7 linked regions of the Homo sapiens genome follow. The protein of the gene in region 6 interacts with the protein of the main gene of each other region in a pairwise test. Each region holds a gene or a part of one and is shown on either strand. Other genes may lie near its edges. The genes, in order: SLC2A13, EFEMP1, NECAB2, ZDHHC17, MAPK8IP3, RIC8A and ZNF585B.

Evidence for each region.
Region 1: the proteins of RIC8A (region 6) and SLC2A13 interact in binary tests that used the Homo sapiens proteins (3 or more experiments, as listed by UniProt).
Region 2: the proteins of RIC8A (region 6) and EFEMP1 interact in binary tests that used the Homo sapiens proteins (3 or more experiments, as listed by UniProt).
Region 3: the proteins of RIC8A (region 6) and NECAB2 interact in binary tests that used the Homo sapiens proteins (3 or more experiments, as listed by UniProt).
Region 4: the proteins of RIC8A (region 6) and ZDHHC17 interact in a two-hybrid assay, tested with the Homo sapiens proteins (one large-scale study listed by BioGRID and IntAct).
Region 5: the proteins of RIC8A (region 6) and MAPK8IP3 interact in a two-hybrid assay, tested with the Homo sapiens proteins (one large-scale study listed by BioGRID and IntAct).
Region 7: the proteins of RIC8A (region 6) and ZNF585B interact in a two-hybrid assay, tested with the Homo sapiens proteins (one large-scale study listed by BioGRID and IntAct).

What each region holds. Positions count from the first base shown.
Region 1 is NC_000012.12:39,757,304-39,760,081, reverse strand, and holds part of SLC2A13 (proton myo-inositol cotransporter), read left to right. Parts: coding exon 1-56; 3' UTR 57-2,778. UniProt on the Homo sapiens protein: H(+)-myo-inositol cotransporter. Can also transport related stereoisomers.
Region 2 is NC_000002.12:55,875,283-55,878,782, reverse strand, and holds part of EFEMP1 (EGF-containing fibulin-like extracellular matrix protein 1 precursor), read left to right. Parts: intron 1-917; coding exon 918-1,037; intron 1,038-1,097; exon of another isoform or gene 1,098-1,166; intron 1,167-2,040; coding exon 2,041-2,160; intron 2,161-3,500. UniProt on the Homo sapiens protein: Binds EGFR, the EGF receptor, inducing EGFR autophosphorylation and the activation of downstream signaling pathways. May play a role in cell adhesion and migration. May function as a negative regulator of chondrocyte differentiation.
Region 3 is NC_000016.10:83,974,744-83,978,243, forward strand, and holds part of NECAB2 (N-terminal EF-hand calcium-binding protein 2), read left to right. Parts: intron 1-3,500. UniProt on the Homo sapiens protein: May act as a signaling scaffold protein that senses intracellular calcium.
Region 4 is NC_000012.12:76,812,615-76,816,114, forward strand, and holds part of ZDHHC17 (palmitoyltransferase ZDHHC17), read left to right. Parts: intron 1-2,531; coding exon 2,532-2,596; intron 2,597-3,242; coding exon 3,243-3,405; intron 3,406-3,500. UniProt on the Homo sapiens protein: Palmitoyltransferase that catalyzes the addition of palmitate onto various protein substrates and is involved in a variety of cellular processes.
Region 5 is NC_000016.10:1,768,023-1,770,851, forward strand, and holds the end of MAPK8IP3 (C-Jun-amino-terminal kinase-interacting protein 3), read left to right. Parts: intron 1-46; coding exon 47-85; intron 86-176; coding exon 177-356; intron 357-454; coding exon 455-604; intron 605-680; coding exon 681-802; 3' UTR 803-2,329; downstream 2,330-2,829. Other genes in the region: NME3 (nucleoside diphosphate kinase 3), read right to left, coding at 2,627-2,744.
Region 6 is NC_000011.10:210,708-213,160, reverse strand, and holds part of RIC8A (chaperone Ric-8A), read right to left. Parts: intron 1,963-2,453; coding exon 1,812-1,962; intron 746-1,811; coding exon 650-745; intron 565-649; coding exon of another isoform or gene 547-564; coding exon 402-546; intron 325-401; coding exon 180-324; intron 1-179.
Region 7 is NC_000019.10:37,204,037-37,207,536, forward strand, and holds part of ZNF585B (zinc finger protein 585B), read right to left. Parts: intron 3,219-3,500; 5' UTR 3,076-3,218; coding exon 3,004-3,075; intron 1-3,003.

The sequences.
Region 1 (2,778 bases), on a different chromosome or scaffold from region 6:
GGGTAAAGGGAAGTAACTATCATCTTTCTGACAATGATGCTTCTGATGTGGAATAATTTTCAGCTGCTCATATATTTAGTTATTTAAACAAACTGGGGGGAGAAGAACAGCAATTGGTGACTTCACTGCCCTGCTTCTAATCTGGTTCTTTCCACAGCCTAGTTTTGATTGACTTCATATTCTAGAATACTTGATTAGGAGGAAGATACAACCATGATGACTTTTTTTTTCCACAAGGAACAATATTTTAAAAAATATTTACAGAGATTTTAATCTAATAATTCTTAAGCAAATGTGTGTAATGCCTTCCTGAAATAGTCTAAAATGAATATTGTACCCAGTGACTTCAGTGGTATCCTTTTTTCCTAAGACCATTTATAATTATTAGTGGCAACAGAGTCAGTGCTAATCTAGCCAAATTACATATGTATAATATATTTATAAAGGATTCTGGGAGATGGTCCAAGGGTGTTCTGTGTCAAAAGATGGCCTATTGGCCCTCAGTTTTCCTACAGAGTAGTGGCTTATCTCTGATCAGCTGTTACAAACTAAATTCCATGTAAGCTTTCATCAACAAATTCCAAAGTGCCTCCTACAAGGGCACAGCTGTCCGTATCTCCTTTGGATTCCATATTTTTGTTTCTCTCCAATTCAGATATTGGGAGTTCTTCAGATACTGACTCTGCACACTATCTTTTGAACATTATGAAAATATAATCTGTCGGGTTGTTTTCATACTTCTTTTTTTTGCATCAGTGATAAGGCATACATTTGCGCAGATGAGCTAGGAAGTTTTGAGAAGTACCTTTTATGTTCAGAAAGTAACAGATTAAAGGTTTTTATGGGTTCCAAATTGGTTAGTCACTTAGGTATGCAATTATAAATGCAAAATAGTGCCAGATCTTTAACTGTATATCAGGGTCAGTTTTTGTTCATGCCCAAATCACTACACCTTCCTCATTGGCCTTGGAGTCCTACTATTTCGTGCCTTCATTTGTGTTACATACATAGCTGCAAGCAAACCATTTTTCCCCTTTCTTTTATTCAAACAATAATTTTTGAAACAAAAAAGAGGAAGGAAATCAGTGGCAGAAATAATCCTGCTGTTATTGGTGTTTGTTTAATAAAAATAATGGGACTTTTTTCTTAACTTTTTATTAGCTCTTCCTAAGGGAAATGTCACATATTATTATTTAATTGTACTTGTCTTTTTTTACTTTAAGAGCATAAACTCGTTTTTATTTTGCACACTTTTCTCATTTTCCTGAGAATTTACCAGAAAAAAAAAAGATACATAGATTTGTCTCTGTGTTTTTCTTATTCTTGGCTTAGTTTTTCCTTCTTGTGTAAAAATTGAGATTGCCTATTGGAACAGATAATTGGTTCTAATATAGCACGTCTATAAGAAATGCAGGCTTAATTATATTTCCACAATGTCTTTCCAAGGTATTCATTGGTTTTTATGGTAATTCATCACTGAACTCTTAATTTTTGCTTTTCTATTAAGAACTATATAGTATGTACAAAATTACTTGATCACAAAATTACTTGCTAGTTCCAGGAAAAATATGAATGAATCTTCTGTGGCCAGTTAGGAATACATCAGTTTGATGCATTTTTAAATGGCTCTAAACATCTAATAAGGTACTGTATTTGGAGAGAAAAGGTGGCTATCTCCATATTCAAAATATTTCTTCCAGTCTCCAAGATACTCTATTCTTTTAATGTCTGGCTTGTTCCTATCACAGTTATCAAGCTGAGAATACAGCTGAGGAAGTTCATTCTCTAAGTCACCAGAGGTATAATATGTGCTTAAACTGTCAATTTAGTGCCCTAAAAATCCATTAACCAAAAACAAAAACGTTTTCTCCCTTTGGTCATTTCATATAATAAAAAAAATTAATATTTTATAGAGGTTTTTTCCTTGAATTAGGTGCTTTAACAATTGATTTCCAAGGGAATATTAGTATTGATTTTTTCCTCAGAAAAGCAGATATGATTTAATAGGGAAAATTATTATTCTATTGATATTTCTTATCTCATAAGAAATTTCTTATCTAATATTTTACACAGGTAAATTGAAGTGAAAAATAAGCTACTATATGGTACAATCAAAATATAATAAGGAGAAAAAGTAGACCAATAAAGTGCTCTCTAAAAATTTATTTTTTGGACTTAATCAAAATAATTGCCTCAATCCTTCTCTTTATTGTATATGTAGCCTTAACTAACTATATACTTATAAACTCAGCTGGGCTGATGCACAGTAACTTTATTAAAGGAGAAACTGGACTCTTGTTATTTCCTAAAGCAGAACATGGCCTGTTCTCCCTGATATAAGAAAACAATGTTTTCAACTTTATAACCATAAATGCACATAATAACAGGGAAAATTAGCCACAGTTCTCCTCCCCTACTCCCCTGAGCCCCTACTTTAAAGGACTATTTGTTATTTATATAGTGTTAAAGATAATATTCCATATCTTTGAAGTATAAGACAGAGAGGCACAGTATAAGAATTATTTATAACTTTTTAGAAACAATTACTTGAAAAGGAACCTTATACAATTAGGGTATTATTTTTAGATTTGGTGAACATTTATAGTATATTAAAAATTAAATGTTTAAATTTTGCAGGTTTTTTTATATTAGGCACCTTTTAAGTTCCCAGCATATTTGGCTACCACTATCAACTTGGAAACATTCCATTTGTAGTATCATCAAATATATATTTTGTAGGACAATTTATATATGATGTGATTTGACCTACCATATTAA
Region 2 (3,500 bases), on a different chromosome or scaffold from region 6:
TAATTGCCAGAACAAAGATTCAGACTCAGGTTATCCTGAGGCCACTTGAGCACACTACTTAATTTTAGTTATTAAAGTACCAAAAGAGCCCAGCATAAAGGTTTGTTTTGTTTTGTTTTGTTTTACCACAAGGCAGTGTCACTATATAGCATTACATTGTATATGCATAATGGTTGTTTTAAATTACACATGCCATGTTGAAGTTGTCACAAAGTGTAGAATCATGAATTAATGAAATTTTATTATGCTTCTAAGATGTTAGTCCTACTTAGCAAGTTCTTAGTTGAGCATTTTATAGTTGAAAATATTTATATGAGAAGGACACAGGCTGGAACACTTCATCAAAGTGTCAAAAGAGCACTCTCAAGAGGTAACTTATTTAGCATCCAATTCTTCCACAGTGTTCTTTTATTTGATACACAAAAACGTCCTAAGATACACATGGCAAGCCTTGCTATCCACATCTTATAGAAGAAAAACCAAGATACTGAAGGCGTAAGTGACTTAGCCAAGGTCACCAGTTGAGCACAGCCCACAACTCTTTCTTCTTTGTTTTGTGCTGCACCATGCACTTCAGTAGTTCTTTTTTACTTCTGTAATTATATATAAGCTTTTAGCTCCCCAAACTGACATCTTATATATATATGCAATAGTCTCAATTATTTTGTTTTCTTTAAATCTCAATCCACCCACCAAGTTTATTTACCACTGAATGGCATGAACATTGAGTCTTTGTTCTTAACTTCTTAACTCAGAATACAAAGTATATTTAAAATACATATACCCTAATTTTAACAAAATAGGAAATTATTACTTTTAAAAAGAGATTTTCTCTACATAGGTTTTCTAGATAATGCTTTTCAGAGAATGCTAATTCAATAATTTGGTTCTCTTTGTGTGTGTGCCTGATAACCTAGACATAGATGAATGTACCATCCCTCCATATTGCCACCAAAGATGCGTGAATACACCAGGCTCATTTTATTGCCAGTGCAGTCCTGGGTTTCAATTGGCAGCAAACAACTATACCTGCGTAGGTAAGCCTTTTGAGAACTTGCTGATTTCTGTCTTCACAAAAGGAAACCCCATGCCATGTTGCAGTATTTCCAGTTTTCTATGTTCTTGAGTAAATAGTTTCCATCGACTTCCCTTCAGCAATCATAAAGCTTAAAAGATAATAACCAATCTGTGTCTTAAAACACATCAAGATGTGAACAGAAAACTTTTTAACTTTGGTTTTAGTTCTCCTCTGTGGATAGATCAACAAATTTAAAACTACAAATCAATTGATATACATACACCAGTCAATCAGCAGTGTGTGATATAATGCTGAAAGTGCCAAAGGGGTTACTACAAGTTCAAGTATATAAACTTTCCACTGAAAGTGCATCTGATTTTTACATGCCTCTTCTCCCCTTTCAGAATGCAATGTCACGGCACACAATTAAAAGATTGGCATGACATGGAAAAAATCTAGTGTAGGAAAAATGCCTTTTCACAATATTTTCAGTGCTTTAGAGCATTGCAAAACTCCGTATGGGTCTCAAAGGCTTATGTTATAATTGTAATGGAATTTAACAGAACCCATTTAAAAAGTAATAAATAGCACAGATAAATCTTCAGTACAGCATGCTGAGAGACCATATCAGTATAAGTGTCTTATATCAATTATTTATAGAATTGGCATTTTGTATCTGAACAACAAAAGAAAATCGATACCGGAGTGTATATTTATTAGAAGCATTAAATTCCTTTGGAAAGATTCATCAAACATCAAACTAACTGTCATTCCTAGAAAAAATATTTCGGTATTTCCAAAAGAAGTATATGACAGACGTTTGTAGTTGTTCCAACAAATATGAAACCTAAATGGATGTTCTCCAGTGAGCTTCTGCAGGGCAAATAATTCAGCTAGGGAATTACTCACTTGTCAGCAGATGACGTAGGTACAAAAGAGTAAGGATATGTTTAAAGTCTATATATATATGTGTGTGTATATATATACATATACATATATATATATATAAAACTTTTTTTCAGATATAAATGAATGTGATGCCAGCAATCAATGTGCTCAGCAGTGCTACAACATTCTTGGTTCATTCATCTGTCAGTGCAATCAAGGATATGAGCTAAGCAGTGACAGGCTCAACTGTGAAGGTAAAACTCTTCCCAGATAGTATGGAATAAAGTCCAATTCCTGTGACTGCTGTTGTTTTATCTGATTATGTACCCATTTATGAAAACAAACGCTTACCCATGGGAATTCTGTTCTAAAATCCAGTTAATGTAGTTCAGTTGTTACATTGCCTTTTTAGTGTGTTACCAAGAAAAAGGAAAAGAAATAAAAATAACTGAAATATTAGGTGCAGGCTGGCTCTAATAATTAGAAAGGGTGCTCTAGCATGTTGCGTCTCAGTGTGTTATCCAGTGACCAGGTATGTCAGCACCTCCTGGGAGCTTATGAGAAATGCAGAATCTCAGGCTGCAACCCAGACCTCCTGAGTCTGAATCTACATTCAACAAAAACTGCAGGTGACTGGTGTGCACATTTAAGTTTCAGAATAGCCAAGTGCATGTCAAAACATTAAAATAAAAATCAGGAGATCTGGTTTCTGGTTCTATTCCTGCTACTGTGTGACTTGGGCACATTTCTTGAGTTGCCTGGGTTTCACTTTCCACATGAACAAGAGGAGGGCCATTTAACTAGATTCATGACCTTCAGGGTCCATTGCATGTGCACATTTCGTTATATAATTCAAAAGGCATTAGACATCCTGAGGGGGATGCCACAGACACTTGATGTCCCTGACCTCCTCACGGTTCACTCAGCTTTACACAAAGCTCAAACCCCACCGAGAGAGGCCTCACATCATGCCATTACACTCAAAACTGAAAGAGGCTACCTCAGGACAGCTGCCTCTGCCCTTCTGAGTAAACTGTAGGGACATCACTATTCAGAAATGCAAAGCATTCTTCCCCTGAAAGTCAGATCCTGCCAAGCTGTCATTCTGGAAGCTTGCACAGGTTAGGGGACTTGGCATTCAAAGCTCAAATGAACTTGGCTTCAAAGTCACCCAATTTCTGAGAAGACAAACATGAACTCTACATCCTGGATGGGTCTGCAGAGTCCAAAATGAAGGCCGTCAACCACAAGCCAATTCATTCAGTAGTGTAGTTAGGTCCAGGATTAGCCAAATTGTCAGCAATGATTCAGTAAAAGTCATGATAAGAAAAACTTTTTGTGCTATGAAGTCATAGAGGGAAATAAGCTGATATTGTTAGAATTTGCCTTTTAGCTGCTTATAAAGTTTTGTATTTCTATTTCAGAATTTGCAATATTTTTACTCTCTTTAGCTCACCTCAAAAGTGTATTACTTCCTCTGGACTGTTGAGCAGAACAAAAAAAATATATATGTGTGTGTGTGTGTGTGTGTGTGTGTGTGTATATATGAAACCCAGGCAACTTAAGAAATGTGCCCAAGTCACACAGTAGCAGG
Region 3 (3,500 bases), on a different chromosome or scaffold from region 6:
GGACTTGGTGTGGGTATAGATAGGGGAGTGGTGTGGGAATAGAATGGCTGGGGAAAGAGGAATGAGTGTAGGGGTGAGAATAGGTGTCAAGGAGGTGTGGATCCAAGAATGAGAGCAGGTGTGCAGGGAGGTGTGGGTGCAGGGATGAGAGCAGGTGTGCAGGGAGGCGTGGGTGCGGGGATGGGAACAGGTGTGCAGGGAGGTGTGGGTGCAGGGATGGGAACAGGTGTGCAGGGAGGTGTGGGTGCGGGAATGTGAACCGGTGTGCAGGGATGAGAGCAGGTGTGCAGGGAGGTGTGCAGGGATGAGAGCAGGTGTGCAGGGAGGTGTGGGTGCAGGGATGAGAACAGGTGTGCAGGGATGAGAGCAGGTGTGCAGGGAGGTGTGCAGGGATGAGAGCAGGTGTGCAGGGAGGTGTGGGTGCAGGGATGGGAACAGGTGTGCAGGGAGGTGTTGGTGCGGGGATGGGAACAGGTGTGCAGGGAGGTGTTGGTGCGGGAATGTGAACCGGTGTGCAGGGAGGCGTGGGTGCGGGGATGGGAACAGGTGTGCAGGGATGAGAGCAGGTGTGCAGGGAGGTGTGGGTGCGGGGATGGGAACAGGTGTGCAGGGATGAGAACAGGTGTGCAGGGGGTGCAGATGTGGAGGCCGATAGGCCCACAAGCACACACAGGACTGCTCAACACTGACGCTAGCCCTGCCTCACGTGTCCACAGGAAGGATGGATGGGATGCCTCAGGGGAGCGGGAGATGGGGTGCAAACTCAAAGGACCCCCCAGGCTGCCCTTAGGACTTAGAGATTACAGGAACAAAGGCTCAGGGCTGCCCTGTCAGGGTGGCTCCTGTGACAGAGACTTGTTTGGCTGAGCTGGATACCGGATGCCCAGTCCCTATGGGAAGGTTAGCATGAGGGGCCTGACTGGCAGCCTGGGACATAAACTCAGGGGGTGGCAGAGGGCTGAGTGGCAGACAGCATTTCCCTTCAGGGACATGGACGCTGACAGGCTGACAGGCTCTTGGCATTTGAAAGGTCATGGAGACAGAGAGTGAGTTTGTGCTAATTAGCAAAGACACCTGCAAACGGCCCGCTTGGGGTCTCTGGCAAAAGTGCCAGCGCGGGCCCGCTTGGCCTGTCTAATTGGACTGGGGGCCTACGTAGGGCATGTTTTTTCCTCATTAGTGAATTCATTAGGGCCGTGATCAGGCGTTCAGGATAAATGTCAGCCGAAAGCTTAGTGAGGGGGCACCTTGCTGGCCTCTGTCTGCCTGCTCTCCCTGTGTGCCGAGGGGGCACCTTGCTGGTCTCTGGCTGCCTGCTCTCCCTGTGTGCAGAGGGGGCCCAAGGTACCTGGACAGGCACGTGGGGAGATGAGCCAGCCAGAGGGAGGCTGGGATTGGGGCTCACAACCCCTGTCATGCCCATGGTGACTGCCCCTCACCCAAAGTGGGGGTGCCTGAGCCAGCACCCACCCCCTGCTGGGTAGGTGGCGATGTCGCCACAAGATCCTACCCCTGGATTAGGTTGAGAGCCTGGACTTGGGAGCCAGATGGCCTGGGTTCAAGCTTCAGCTGTAGGACCTAGGCAAGTACCCTAAGGGCTCTGTGCCTCAGTTTACCCCTCTCTAACATGGAAGTGGTAGTACTACCTGTGTCGTGAGTGTTAAGAAGACTAAAGGAGTGAGTCCGTGGAAGGTACTCCACGTGTGGTGTGACTCCACACTGGGATTCCTGGGTTTTATCTTCAGGCTTGCCGAAGACACTCGGAAGGCATCCTCTGTCACAGAACACAGAAAGCAACAACTTCGATTTCACTTATCTCGTGGCTGACTTTGCGGACTTTTAGTTGTTAGGTTTTGGGTCTTTGGTTTGTGCATGTGTGGTTGGATTGGGGTTTTTTTGGCCTTTCCTTTGAAAGACAGAAATTCTTCCCACTGTAACCTTGAAATCTGAGCTGCGATGGGGGCATCTTGGGATATTGGCCCTAGCCCCCCGTGCCCACACGTTCATATTCTTTACCGGTCTCTGATACTTTATGCTCTATGGGGTTAAAGAGAAAAGTGGTGGCATGAAACCTTGGCAAGATCTGAGGACCCCCCCTCTCCTGAGCTTATGCTCTCACCCTGTGTTGAGCTCCAGCAGAGCTGCTGGGAGCACAGACAGAAGCACTGGAGCCTTTAAAGTTTAAGAATGACTCATTCTCAACCCAAGTACGTCTGCCATGTCGGGTTAGGCAGGTTGTGCGCTGCACAAGGGCACCCACCCGAGGAAATGGAGGGTTTCAAATCCAGGCTGCAATCCGCTTTCAACACATGTGCACTGACACTGGTCTCATCCTCTCGGCAGAGAAAGGAGAGTCTTTTTCTAATCCATAGGAAGGTGCCATGTGGACTCTCAGGGCCCTTGTCCCAAGCACCCAGCTTTGAATGCAGATCCTCTGGAAGTAATGCCAGGGGTTTATGCAGAGAGGCTGGGGGCCAGGAACTGTCATGGGCTCCCTCTTGTCTCTGACCTCCATGCCACTCACATAGTTTCTCTTAAGGAGGAACAGATCCTTGAGGAGGGGGGAGGTGGCTGCAGGGCAGGTGGGGGATGAGCTTGCTGGCATTTGCTCAGCAGGTCTGTTCAGGTGGAAGGAGCTGAGGGTGGAAGCTTAGGGACCGCCTCCCAGAGTCCCTGATGTTCTTAAGCCACCTCCCCTGGTGGCCCAATCTGATCCAAACCCACAAGACCTTCCTGGTAGGGCCAAAAGTGTCCCCAGAGCAACTGCAAGTGAAGGGAAAAGGTGAGGCGATGGGTGGGACTGGTGGCATGTGTCCCACCCATCCCTCCACAGAGCCCCTCCACAGAGGAGCTGTGGAGGCCCCTCTGTGGAGCTCCACCTCAGAAGCACAGCCTCTGGCCAGAGCGTTGGCACCTCCAGGCCTGGCACCTCCTTCCTGCATGGCTTGGCATCTAGATGGCTGCATCTGTGGCCTGGGAGAGGAGGTAACTGAGAACCTCATGCCGGCCATTGGCAGCCATCTCATGCTGCCTCAGGGAAGGACCTGAAGTTTGCCACATAGATGGGGCGGAGAAGAAAGGGTTCTTCTGTACTCTAAGAACAGTGCTGAGAGAGTCAGGGCTTAGGGGCTGGGATTGGGGTTGGGAGCATGCAGAGACCACTTGGCGTTTGGAAGCTATGGAGTGGTGGCTCATCCAGCTGCTGGTTTTTGGATCCACTTCATACCGATGGTGTGACATGGGACAAGTTGCTCACAGTGGGTTATCTTAAATAGCACCTGCCTCCAGGTGGCCATGTAAATTGAGAGAAAATTCACTGGCAGGGGGCAGATACTCTATATTTGTTGAACGCATGGAAAATGTTGAGTGCATGGTGAGCCCAAGAAAGCTAGCTATTGCATTATTGTTAGTTTGAGGATTATCTGTAAACAGGCATTGGTCTGGGAATTAGCTGGATGAGGCATGATTCTCTGTGTACTGGAGTTTACTGGTTAGTGTGG
Region 4 (3,500 bases), on a different chromosome or scaffold from region 6:
CTTGATTTTTCAGCTTTAGATAGTTTTCTTTGATTCATGGCTACTATAGATGAGGCTCTCAGCATATTTTCATTTCAACCTTTTTCCATTTTCCCATTTTGTTGTTAATTATATCAATTTTACATTGTCAGGGTATATAACATTTCCATTCAGTTTTGTCATTCTATTCTTCACAATCGTTTTGTTTTAGTTATATTGTTAAATATATTTAGTGCTCACTACCAATTCTTTTGGATGATTTTCAGGAGAAAAAGGGGAAAATGCTAAGTTATGGAGCCCTGTTGATCATGGAATTCCCATAAGCTTTTGATCTGGGCTTGTTAATTCTTCCTAATAGAGAATACCCATACGTCCAGGCTGAACTTGGAAAAGAAGTACCAAGTTTTAAATCCCGACCCAAAGAGAGAAAAGGTTGAATTTCATTTTTCTTTTAGTACTCTAGAGATGTGCCATGATTTTACATTTTTTTATTTATTGATATTTTTAATACTATCATTTTTTAAAAAGGATATGAAAACACAACTAAGAAGAAGGAGAAACTTAAACATAAGAATTTACATGCTTGCTTTAATTAGACCTGAAATTTGGTTGAGGTCCTACGGAAATTAGGAGTAAAAGAAGTCACAATAGTTACTTCTCATATAAGAAATAAGGAAGTTTGTTGTTTCTTCAGAAAACATATTTTTTTTAAGCCACAGGATTATTTTAAAAAATGTACTTGCATATTGGAAATGTTGAGTGAGGTTGCAGAAGATATTCCTGACAACACTATTAAAGTAAATCCAGAAATGGATTTGTAATGGATAAGGCATAACATTCTATGACAGTATGCATGGTGAGTGACTAAGTTAATGACATCCAAGGAAATGCTTTACTTATCTAATGTAGTGGTTCTCAGATTTTTTTTCTTCAATATGCTTAGATAATGTTCACATTTGAGACATATTCCTATTGCTAACAGTGGCTCACAGAGAACTGATGCATAGAGATAGTGTTTTACAGTGTGCTTACTGTAACTCTCTGCTCTCTCCACTGATTGGTGAATTAGGTAACACAACTTGGATTAGAACTGCTTGCTTAATGTAATTCAGGAATGGGAGATGGGGTAGAGAAGAAGAAGAAACTTAATATTTATTGAATATCCATTATGTTCTCAGCTGTTGACTAGATGCTTTGCACACATTATTTAATCTTCACAGAAGTCTTATGAAGTTATTTGTATTTCACATTTTTTAATGAGGAAGCTAAGACTAAGAATTAAAGTAATTTAGCCTACAATCTCATAGCAATTATATGATGGAGCTAGGAAGTCAAAACCATGTCTTATTCTAAAGCCAAGCCTAGAAAAGTAGATAGATAAGCATGTCTTTTCCTTTAATAAATGGTTTTCGATCATCTACTCTGCTGGGCACTGAGAATACGAAGATGGATTTGAGATGATTTTTATTTTCAAAGTACTCCAGGTTAATGAGACACACATTTCAGGCATAGAGGATAATCAGTTCAGAATGGAGTGGGTTAGGAAAGGTAGTTTCAGAGCATTGAAACTGATAAGAGTCCCTGATACATCAGAAAGTCTTGCGCAAGGAGAATTAGATAACTAGGAAAGAGTTTCGGTTTAATAGGTGGAAGTTTTAGTTATAATTTGCTAAAAACTAAGTAGTAGTGGGGGAAAGATGGTGCCAGGGAAAGCAAAAAATTGAGTAGAAGAGGAAAAATAGTGGTTTATTACATGGTTTGGCTGGGAATAGTATTTATGCATATTTATAATAATACATATCAAGTATTAAATGTTTATATGAACCAGAATTACAATAGATCTCTTGAGAGGAAAGAATAGGAAAGGCGTGCATTTGTGATGTAGCAGAGAGGAAAGAGAAAAATTCAGATTTTTTGTACCAAGGAATTTCAGAATAATGCCTGAAACTGAAAAATCAAGAAGTAGCAATTCAAACATCTTATTTAAAGATATGGAGGTAAATATAAAAATAATGAGCCAAAAAATGGTGAAAATGGTGGGAAGTAAGGCAGGGGGATTGCTTTAGTGTGTTGCTTTTTCCACACAAACTGCAGAATCATTTAACTCTAAAAATGTACATGTGTAACAGTAAAAACTGAGTATATTAAAATGTCAGTTCTTTTTATTTTTTGTTTTGAAATGCCTAGGAATAAACAGTTTTGTCGTTCTCTCTTATGCATTAGTATAAACAAGTTTTTCAGAAACTTAATCACTTAACCTATCCTTTGTGGTTGAAAGGTCAGAATAGGTTAAGAATTTTAAATGTGAAACATTGAAAGGCTGATTAAAACATCTTAAAAGGGAATAATGTAAAAGCATGATATATGTTCACTAGAGTATATAGTGACAAGAGTTTCATTTTAAAGTTAAGAAAGAAAGTTTCATACATTATCCTTGATTGAGTAGTATTATATTCGCTTCTCCTTTTATATATAGATTAGATTTTTCCAAGCAAATTTGGTTAGGAACTTATAATTTAACTGTCTGACTTTTTTTCTTTTTACTTTATCAGGATGTAGATATGATGGATCAGAATGGAATGACGCCTTTAATGTGGGCAGCATATAGAACACATAGGTATGTAATGACTATAAAAAACTTATTTAGGCCATTTCAGCATAATACAATATGAAGTAAGAGAGAGGAAAAAGCAGTTAATACTATACTCACTAATATTTACAGTTTTTATTATGACTATAGTATATATAAATTACCATTTTGGATGTTCTGGTATCTCTGTGCTGTCTCTCCCTCACTGATTAGAGCTTCCTTAATCTGTTTCTCTTTTAACAATATCTAAGAAAAGAAGTTATCTTTTTTTAAAAATTAATTAATTTTTTCATGTGATTTACATATTGACAAATTTATTAATTAGTAAGTTGTCTTAGATCACTTTTGGAAGACTCCAAATTTAAATTTTAAAAAGTGTTATTCTTGAATTGTATAAGTATTAATGCCATTTCTAGGTCAAAAATAGAAAATATCAGGACCAAGTTGCTTATCCCCTGAAACTATTAATATATTATTTTATATGGTGTCATACATACTTAATACTTCATATTAGAATATTGTCTCATTATTGATTTTAAAGTTGTTGAGTAGGTTAGAAGTGTTCCAAAATGGAATGCTACTGTAAGCATAATCAGTTTAGTATTTGTAATGATTTCTATAATTGAAATTAGGGTTGTTGTTGTTGTTTGTTTTTTTTTTTTTTCCTTTTCAGTGTGGATCCAACTAGATTGCTTTTAACATTCAATGTTTCAGTTAACCTTGGTGACAAGTATCACAAAAACACTGCTCTGCATTGGGCAGTGCTAGCAGGGAATACCACAGTCATTAGCCTTCTTCTGGAAGCTGGAGCTAATGTTGATGCCCAGAATATCAAGGTAAAAATATTCTATATTGATAATACTGTATGAAATGTGGCTAATATGTGAATTCTGTAATAAAACAAGTTTTTCATAGACTGTCAGAGTTGAAA
Region 5 (2,829 bases), on a different chromosome or scaffold from region 6:
ACGCTGACCGCTCTCCTCTTCTCCCATGCTCCTCCCATGTCCCCAGCTGTGGTCCTGCACCGAGGCCAGCTCCTGGGGCTCCGAGGTAAGCCCAGCCACCTCGTGTCCCCTCACGGGAGCCTCTCCCACTCTCCACCTGTATGCGGGCTCAGCGCCTCTGGGTTCTCTCCCTGCAGCCAATAAGACATCCCCCACCTCTGGGGAGGGCGCCCGTCCCGGGGGCATCATCCACGTGTATGGCGATGACAGCAGTGACAGGGCGGCCAGCAGCTTCATCCCCTACTGCTCCATGGCCCAGGCCCAGCTATGCTTCCATGGGCACCGCGATGCCGTGAAGTTCTTTGTCTCGGTGCCAGGTGAGGCTGGGCCCCTCCTGCCATCCACATCCCCTGCATGCCAGTGGCCGCCGCCTCCCCCAGGAGGCCGCTGTCCTGAATCGCTTCTGCCATCCCAGGGAACGTGCTGGCCACCCTGAATGGGAGTGTGCTGGACAGCCCAGCCGAGGGCCCTGGGCCAGCTGCCCCTGCCTCGGAGGTCGAGGGCCAGAAGCTGCGGAACGTGCTGGTGCTGAGCGGCGGGGAGGGCTACATCGACTTCCGCATTGGTGAGCGGGGCCCAGGGACAGGGCTGAGGTTGGGCGCGGGGGGAGCCTGGCCGTCACTCTGCTGCTTTGCCCGCAGGAGACGGAGAGGACGACGAGACGGAGGAGGGCGCAGGGGACATGAGCCAGGTGAAGCCCGTGCTGTCCAAGGCAGAGCGCAGTCACATCATCGTGTGGCAGGTGTCCTACACCCCCGAGTGAAGCTGCTGCCCTGCCTGGCCCGACCTGTACATAGGACCCCCGACCACCTGACCCCCGCCCGGCCCGCGGGGTAGCCAGCCAGGCGCCGCCGCCCCTCTTCTAACCTCTCAACCTGCAGCTTTCACCTGAGTCTGGCCCCTCCAGCGGGCAGGGAGTGCGGGGATGCGGATCAGCTGGGAGGAGGAGGGGAGGGGAACTTCCACCCGAGGGGAAGATGCTCTCGGGACAGTTTCCCGGGCAGCTCCTGGCCAGCTTCCAGCCCAGAGTCCTCAAGTCCAGGGCACCTTGGGCCCAGCGCAGGCAGAATCCGAGGTGGTCCTGGCTCTACCCTGGGCCTCCTACTCCCCAGCACCCCTGGAGGAGGCAGGGGCTCCCCGCCGCCGAGGCTGCCTGCCCTGGGCCCACCTCTGCATGCTGCTCATGGGGCCACCCTGCCTCCTGGGCCCTCACTCTGCCTAGGGGAGCTGGGCCAGGCACTAGCCTTTGCCCAGGGAGGTGGGCCTCAGGCTGCCCAGGTGCCTGCACCCCAGCCGGCCTTCTCTGGGGCCTCCCCGTCGTCAAGCCTCTATCCTGTCTGTCCCCACCCCAGCTGTCCCCTGCCCAGGGAGCTGGCATAAAAGCACGAGGCCCGGCTCCCTGGGGCAGCTGCTTGAGAACAGAGACTGCTACCCCATCCTGCCCATGCAGGCAGGCTCTTGCCAGCCCCGTTCTGACCCGTGTCCCCCCAGGCTCTGCCTGGGCAGAAGACTCACCTTGGAGGAGTGGGCCCTGGAGTCCTGTCCCTCCCAGAAGCCCCCAGGGTGGGATTTCTCAGGCTGCCAGGGCAGGCCCAGGCCTCAGGAAGAAGGGGAGGCCCCTGGCCTCTCCGGGATCAGTCCTAGGACACAGGCTCAGCCTCAGGTTGATGGGGGATGATGTGCTCCCGGGGCCTGCCTCCTGCACGGGGCTCCACGGAGCCCAGCTCCCAGACACGCTACTAAGTGCCTAGGGTTGCCCGCTGTGGCCTGCTTCCAGGGAGCAACAGAGAGGCCACCAAGCAGAGGCCCGTGGGGCTGAGGATGGAGCCGCCCCCAGCCGACTCCAAGCCCGCAGAGGGCAGACGCCACCCTGGACTGCTCTCCCTGCCCAGCTGGGCCTCTCTGGCCTATTCCTACCTTCCAGGCCCACTGCACTCCTGTCTGGGAGGCCCTTATGAGGGCAGCCCAGCCCCCGCACCCACCCCCAACCAGAGAAGCACAGATCTTGGGGAGCTGCCCCACAAGCCCCGCTGGCCACCGAGGGCTGCAGCCGCTGCGCTGCCGGCTTCTCCCCACCACCCTGCCACCTCCACTGTGATGTATGTCCGCTCCCTCGTCTGTTCCCCCAGGATCTCGAAGTGACTCCGGGCTGAGCAGTGGGGCGGCTGGGGGAGGGGTGACGATTCTCCTCAGGCTTTGGCCCTGCAAGCAAACCCACATATCTGCTCTGTATGTAATAAATGTCTTAACGTCGTAGCTGCCTGTTCCTGGGCCCAAATCGAAACGAAAACGAGGACTTTATTATAAAAAAACGTTGGACCACGTTGGGCTGGGCACCAGGACAGTGTCCTGGCACGTTTCCAGGCGAGCCGCGCAGGCTCCTGGAGCAGCTCCTCGGGCAGGAAACCCTGTACGCCAGGGATTGGAGAGGCCTGCGCCACCCTCCATGCAACGTCCAGACAGGTGGATGTTCAGCAGCCCGTCCAAAGGGATGCTCCAAGCGCTGTGGGGTGGGGCCAGAAGCCCGCCCACCTGGGCCCTGGAGGAGGCTGGAGTGTGAGAGCCTCTGTGACGCGCATCTGCCGGGCTACTCATACAGCCAGTGCCCAGCGCTGTCCTCCCAGCAGAGGAGCTCGTCTGCGCGGAACCAGAGAGCGATCTCGCGGCGGGCACTCTCCACCGAGTCGCTGCCGTGAATCAGGTTCCTGCGCGGAAGAGGCGCGTGTGAGCGTGGGAAAGAGACCTCCGGCACGGGTACCACGCAGGCTGAACAGGGGGAGGCCGGACGGG
Region 6 (2,453 bases):
CCAGCTCCTGCCATCTGCCACCTTCTGGTATCCCAGATAGCACTTAGGAACAGGTGCTTGATTCTGGAAGCTCTTGCCCATTTGTCATCCTGTCCCACCCTACAGGGGTCCACATGGGTGTGGAAGCAGGGACTATGGGGCTGTGAGTGGAGACCCGAGGGTGTGTTGGGGGTACACACCTGGCTTTGGCTTCCTTGTACTCATCTGTGTCTGTGTCCTCATCCTCTGAGTACTGGCCCTCGGGCCGGCCTCCTGCCATGAGGCCCCTGGCAGCCAGAAGGCCAGCAGCATTCCCATAGCCTGTGTACTTGATGAATCGGGGCACTGAGGGGCAAGGCAGAGGTCAGTGTGCAAGCCTGGCTGAGGTGGGGTGGGCTGGGACCTGGGTCTCCATAACTCACCACTCTCAGAGCACAGGACAAACAAGAACTCGGCAGCCACCCTCTTCACATCTGTGTCCAGGTGTGTCATGAGGCGGACAAGCTTGTTCCGCAGCATCTCCCCAACCTCAGGCCGTGTCCTCACATCCCGCAGAGGGGGCAGCACCTGGGGAGGTGGCCATCCCTAAGCTTGGGCTTAGAGCAGCCAAGGGTCTGTGATCAGGGCCGAAACCACATCCCCCAGGAGCACCAGCTCCTCAGCCTTATACCTGGGCCTTCAGGAACTTCCTGGCTGGGCGGTGCATCCGGGCACATTCAGTCAGCACGCTCAGCACGGGAGCTACACTCTCCTTCAGCCTGTGTGTCTGTAGAGGATTCTCTGTCACTGGGGCTATGCCCCTGCCTAACTTGTGACTGGCACAGAGTTACACCTCCCCACCACCCCTTCCCACCAACATACACAACAGCTGGTCCTGGCGGCAGAGGTTTGGGAAGAGGCCCCTCTGCAGTTAGTCAGCAGAAGGCCAAGAGTGGGTGGTGGGTGTCTGTGTCACTTTTGAAAAGGACAGGGATAGAGCGTAACTCAGAGGTACTCGTAAGCTTTGTGACTTGGGAGAAATAACTGCTTTAAGTCTAATTACTTCAACTATAAACCAGAGCTGGGAAGAAAACACAAAGCAATTAAAGCTTTAGACTCGCACACACATTGCCCTCAGATGTTGGTGGCAAAAAGAAACGAGAACCGAATCCCCGCTCTGTGTACTTCGTGGACAGAGCAGGGAGTTCTTGACCCTCCTAGCATAATGTGCCTGGACCCCAGCACCAGCAGTGGCAGCGACGGGCACAGACAACCCCCTAGCTGTGTGTCCAGTGCCAGCTCCCTATCCTGACTGGCTCGCAGGCACCTTGTGTGTCCCTTGCTTAGGCAGGTAGATTCCCAGGAGGTCTACTAAATCTCGGTTTATTGTACTCCAGCCTGCTTTCTGCAAGCTCCTGGAAGATGGTTAGAGCCCCAGCTGTCCAGATGCCCTGTAGTGCAGTCACAGCAATCAGAAGGAAGCTTTGATCTGAGGTTCCTATGGGTCTCCTCAGGATGCTGAGGGACAACTATGCTTGTAATCAAGGGCTGCCTGTGTTTAAGACTTAAAAGTAGGGACTGGGGGGCTTCTCTGGACCACTCAGTAAAGATCCCCAAAGATTTAAGAAGTGAAACCTTCAAGTGTGTGGAAGGTGTCCACATGCTTCTCATGGAGGAAGGGTCTGGCTTCTTGCCAGGCTGGACCACAGAACAACCGGAAGAGTCGCCCATATCACACCACCAAGACAATCTCCACGTACCAGTGTGGACAGTGTGGAAGCACTGACCACATCTGTGCAGGAGAACCAGTGCCAGAGCCACTGGGGGAGCCTGCACAGCCATCCCCAGCCTACCTTGTGCAAACGCTTCTCTAGGAAGATGAGGAGGGCACGAATCACATCCATATTCACTCCCATGAACTCCGTGGAGTCTCCATGTGGCTCCAGGGTGAGGAGAACATCCAGACACTTGAGGGGCAAGTTCCCCAGGAGGTTCACTGCGTGGCTGGGGACAGATGGAGGTAGGGGTTTCAACAGGGCTAATCCCTGAGCACAGGTGCAATCTTTGTGACTCCGCTGAACCACACATTACATGAGCTGGCATCTGAGTCCCAAAGGGGCAGCGCTAGGGACCAAAGCCAAGGGCAGGGACTGATCTGAGAGGCACTGCCACTCAGCTGTACAGTGGGGTCCCCTGGGGAAGTGGGGGCACTGAGACACACTGCCTCCCCGACCCTGTCTGAGCCAAAGCGCCAGACCATCTCTGGAAACCCAGACCAGCCTAGGGGCAGGTAGACCAAAAACGGGGACAAGGAACCAATGTGCCCTAGTAAGTACCATACTGTTGCCACTACCCAAGGCCCAGTTGGCACATTCCTGCCCCCAAATTCATGGCTATGTCCAGTCTCACTCACCCAGACAACGTCAGACTCTCTAGGGTGGGGCCTGGGCTCTCAGGTGGTTCTGGTTCAGAGCCGGGGTTGAGGACGACCATCT
Region 7 (3,500 bases), on a different chromosome or scaffold from region 6:
GTAGTGTGATAAAATGGCCAATATTGCATTTAATGATTTCTGTTCATTTTTACTTAAAATAGTTCAAAGATACATTATTAATTAAAAAAATGCTAATAATTTGTATAATTCTTTGTACATGATTCTTTTCATAAGGATGAACAACATGTTTTCATCCCTTTAGGTGATTTTCATCTTAAATCCCTTTTGATCTGTTCCTAAATTGCAGCCCTAGCTTTCTTTTGGCTCACTCTCTTATTTTTAAATGAGGACAAAAGCAGTCCTAACCTCTGAGAGTTAGCCTCGTACTATCAATTAAGCCTCAGTGTTGCTAGAAGCTAACCTGGCAAGGGCCAGCTAATTCATGGTGTTCTCCATGGTGCTACACAAAAACAATCTCTTAGAACACCAACAGCAAACAAGACCAATCTCTGACCATCATGGTGTAAGATGATACCAAGACCACTCTGTCGTTATATTTGAGCATAGACAAAAATCAGAACATTCTTCAAACCACAAAAGTGAATAAAAGTCTCCTTATTCTGCCTAATGCAAGAGACTGCTGCTTTTTTCTTTTGAGACAAAGTCTATCTCTTTCATCCAGGCTGGAGTGCAGTGGCATGCTCATAGCTAGGTGTAATCTCGAACTCTTAGGCTCAAGTGATCCTCCTGCCTCAGCCTCCCGAGCAGGTGGGTCTATAGGCACACAGCACCATGCCAGACTAATTGTTTTTCTTTTTTTTTTTTTTGAGACAGAGGCTCACTCTGTCACCCAGACTGGAGTGCAGTGGTGCAATCTCAGCTCCCTGCAACCTCTGCCTCCTAGGTTCAAGCGATTCTCCTGCCTCAGCCTCCTGAGTAGCTGGGATTACAGGCGTACGCCACCATGCCTGACAAATATTTTTTATTTTTAGTAGAGACGGGGCGTCACCATGTTGGCTAGGCTGGTCTCGAACTCCTGACCTCAGGCAATCTGCCTGCCTCAGCCTCCCAAAGTGCTGGGATTATAAGTGTGAGCTACCGCACCAGGCCCAAACTAATTTTTAATTTAATTAAATTTTTTTTTTGGTAGTGACAGGGAATCACTACATTGCCAGGGCTGGTCTTGAACTTCTGGCCTCAAGCCATCCTCCCACCCTGGCTTTCCAGTGTTGGGATTACAGGTGTGAACGACCGTGCCCAGCCAACTGCTGCTGCTTTACCAACTGTAACTTTAGCCTCAAGCTATCCTTCCTATCTTCTAGAATAAAATTATTAAGATACTCAATCCTAAAACTGCCCAAGAGCAACTAAAGTAGAGGTTCACTGAGGTGCAGATGAGACTCTCACCACGTGACTAGAACCCTGAAATGAAATTCCACTACTTCTAATATATCCAATAGAAAGAGAAGGCATGACAATATCCACTGCGATATTGTTCATAATAGTTTCTGTATTTTACCAAACAAACATTAAAACAGCAATGTACAAAAAAGTTAATCTGCTATGCCATTCTGAAATCAAGAGAAAAAAATTGTAGTTGTTTTCATTTGTATACAGAACTAAGCAATCAAAGAAAATGAATAAAGCAGGTTATCACTACCGGGAGACACAGGTAGATGGAAGGCAGAGGTGGGTGAACCACAGTCCCATCTCTTTCACCATAATACTTTTCAATATATTGCTTTTCATATATTTCTAACTTTTGAACTAGGTATATGCATTGCCTATTCAAAAGATTAAACTATTCCTAATAAATTATCACAATATCTTCAGATGGATAAGAAATAACAATACACCCAGGCCGGGCATGGTGTCTCACACCTGTAATCCCAGCACTTTGGGAGGCCGAAGCAGGTGGATCACCTGAGGGTCAGGAGTTCGAGACCAGCGTGGCCCAGATGGTGAAACACCATCTCTACTAAAAATACAAAAATTAGCCAGGCGTGGTGGCTCGCACCTGTAATCTCAGCTACTCAGGAGGCTGGGGCAGGAGAATTGCTTGAACCTGGATGGCAGAGGTTGCAGTGAGCGGAGATCATGCCATTGCACTCCAGCCTAGGCAACAAGAGCAAAACTCCATCAATAAATAAATAAATAAATAAATAATTTAAAAAATAACATTACATCCATGAAATAAGAACGGGATGGCAATAAAAAAAAATTTAGGAAACAGGCTGGGAACAGTGGCTCATGCCTGTAATCCCAGCACTTTGGGAGGCTGAGGTGGGCAGATCACCTGAGATCAGGAGTTCGAGATCAGCCTGATCAACACGGAGAAACCCCGTCTCTACTAAAAATACAAAATTAGCCGAACGAGGTGGCACATGCCTGTAGTCCCAGCTATTTGAGAGGCTGAGGCAGGAGAATCTCTTGAACCCAGGAGGCGGAGGTTGCAGTGAGCCGAGATCATGCCATTGTACTCCAGCCTGGGCAATGAGAGCAAAACTCTGTTTCAAAAAAAAAAAAAAAAATTTTAGGAAACAAACTAGAGTTTTTAAAAATTAAAACATTAAGTTAAAATGTGGATAGTGGTAATGAGAAGCTCAATAGAAGGGCTGGAAGGCAAAAGGTGTCAAAGTTACCCAGAATGGATAGCAGGAAATACATAGAAAATAGTAGAGAAAAGAAATGGAGAAGCAACATCTGAAAAACAAGTTTCAGAAAGAAAACAGAGAAAACATTTGTGTTTGAGGAGGTGGTTTAGGAAGAAATGAAAAAATGCTTTCAAAATCTCAAACAAAAGTCACTTCTAACAAGGAATTCTATTTGCAGCCAAAACATCAATATAGCGTGATGACAAAATCAACAACAGTTTTCCTTGACAGTGCACCTCTCCACTGTCACACAGGTGGCCTCCAGAGACGGAGACATTACCCACGTGTTCATTCTTGACAGGAAGATCAAGTTTTCTTTCAGGAGCACCAAGTCTAGAGTCCAGCTGGTTCCTAAGGCCTGTCTGCCTCTGCCCTAAGGCTGTGGTGACAGATTAGAGCTATCTACTCTTGGACTGAAATTCCACCCCTTGGGACTCCTCCTCCTCACCTCATAGGAGCTGCCATGATCCTCTGGAGCCAGGGCTGAGGATTTCTGGGGTGAGGTCCAACTAGCTGGCATGGCCACACTGGATCTCAACCCTTTTTGTCTAGGGTGCCTGAAGTTTAGTGGTCATCTGTGAACTCAGCAGAGCTGCTCCGAAGAGGTGGGCTGGAGTCTGGAGGAAGGTCTGGCCCAGGGACTCCCCAGAGACACCCAAGAACCTAGAAAAACAATGTCCACGTAGTCATTCAACATTCACTACATAAACACTTCCTGGATACACCAAGGTGCAGGTCCCTGCGCTAGAAACCAGAGCAGTGGTTCCCAAACGTAGGTATGCATTCAAGTCACCTGGAGGGCTTGTTAAAACATAGTTTAAAATTCTCAACTTCACCCCTTCGATGGGTCTAAGGTAGGCCCTAAGAATTTTATTTTCTAATAAGTGCCCAGGAAATGCTGATGCTGCTGGTACAAGAACCACACTTTCAGAACTGTGGAGAACA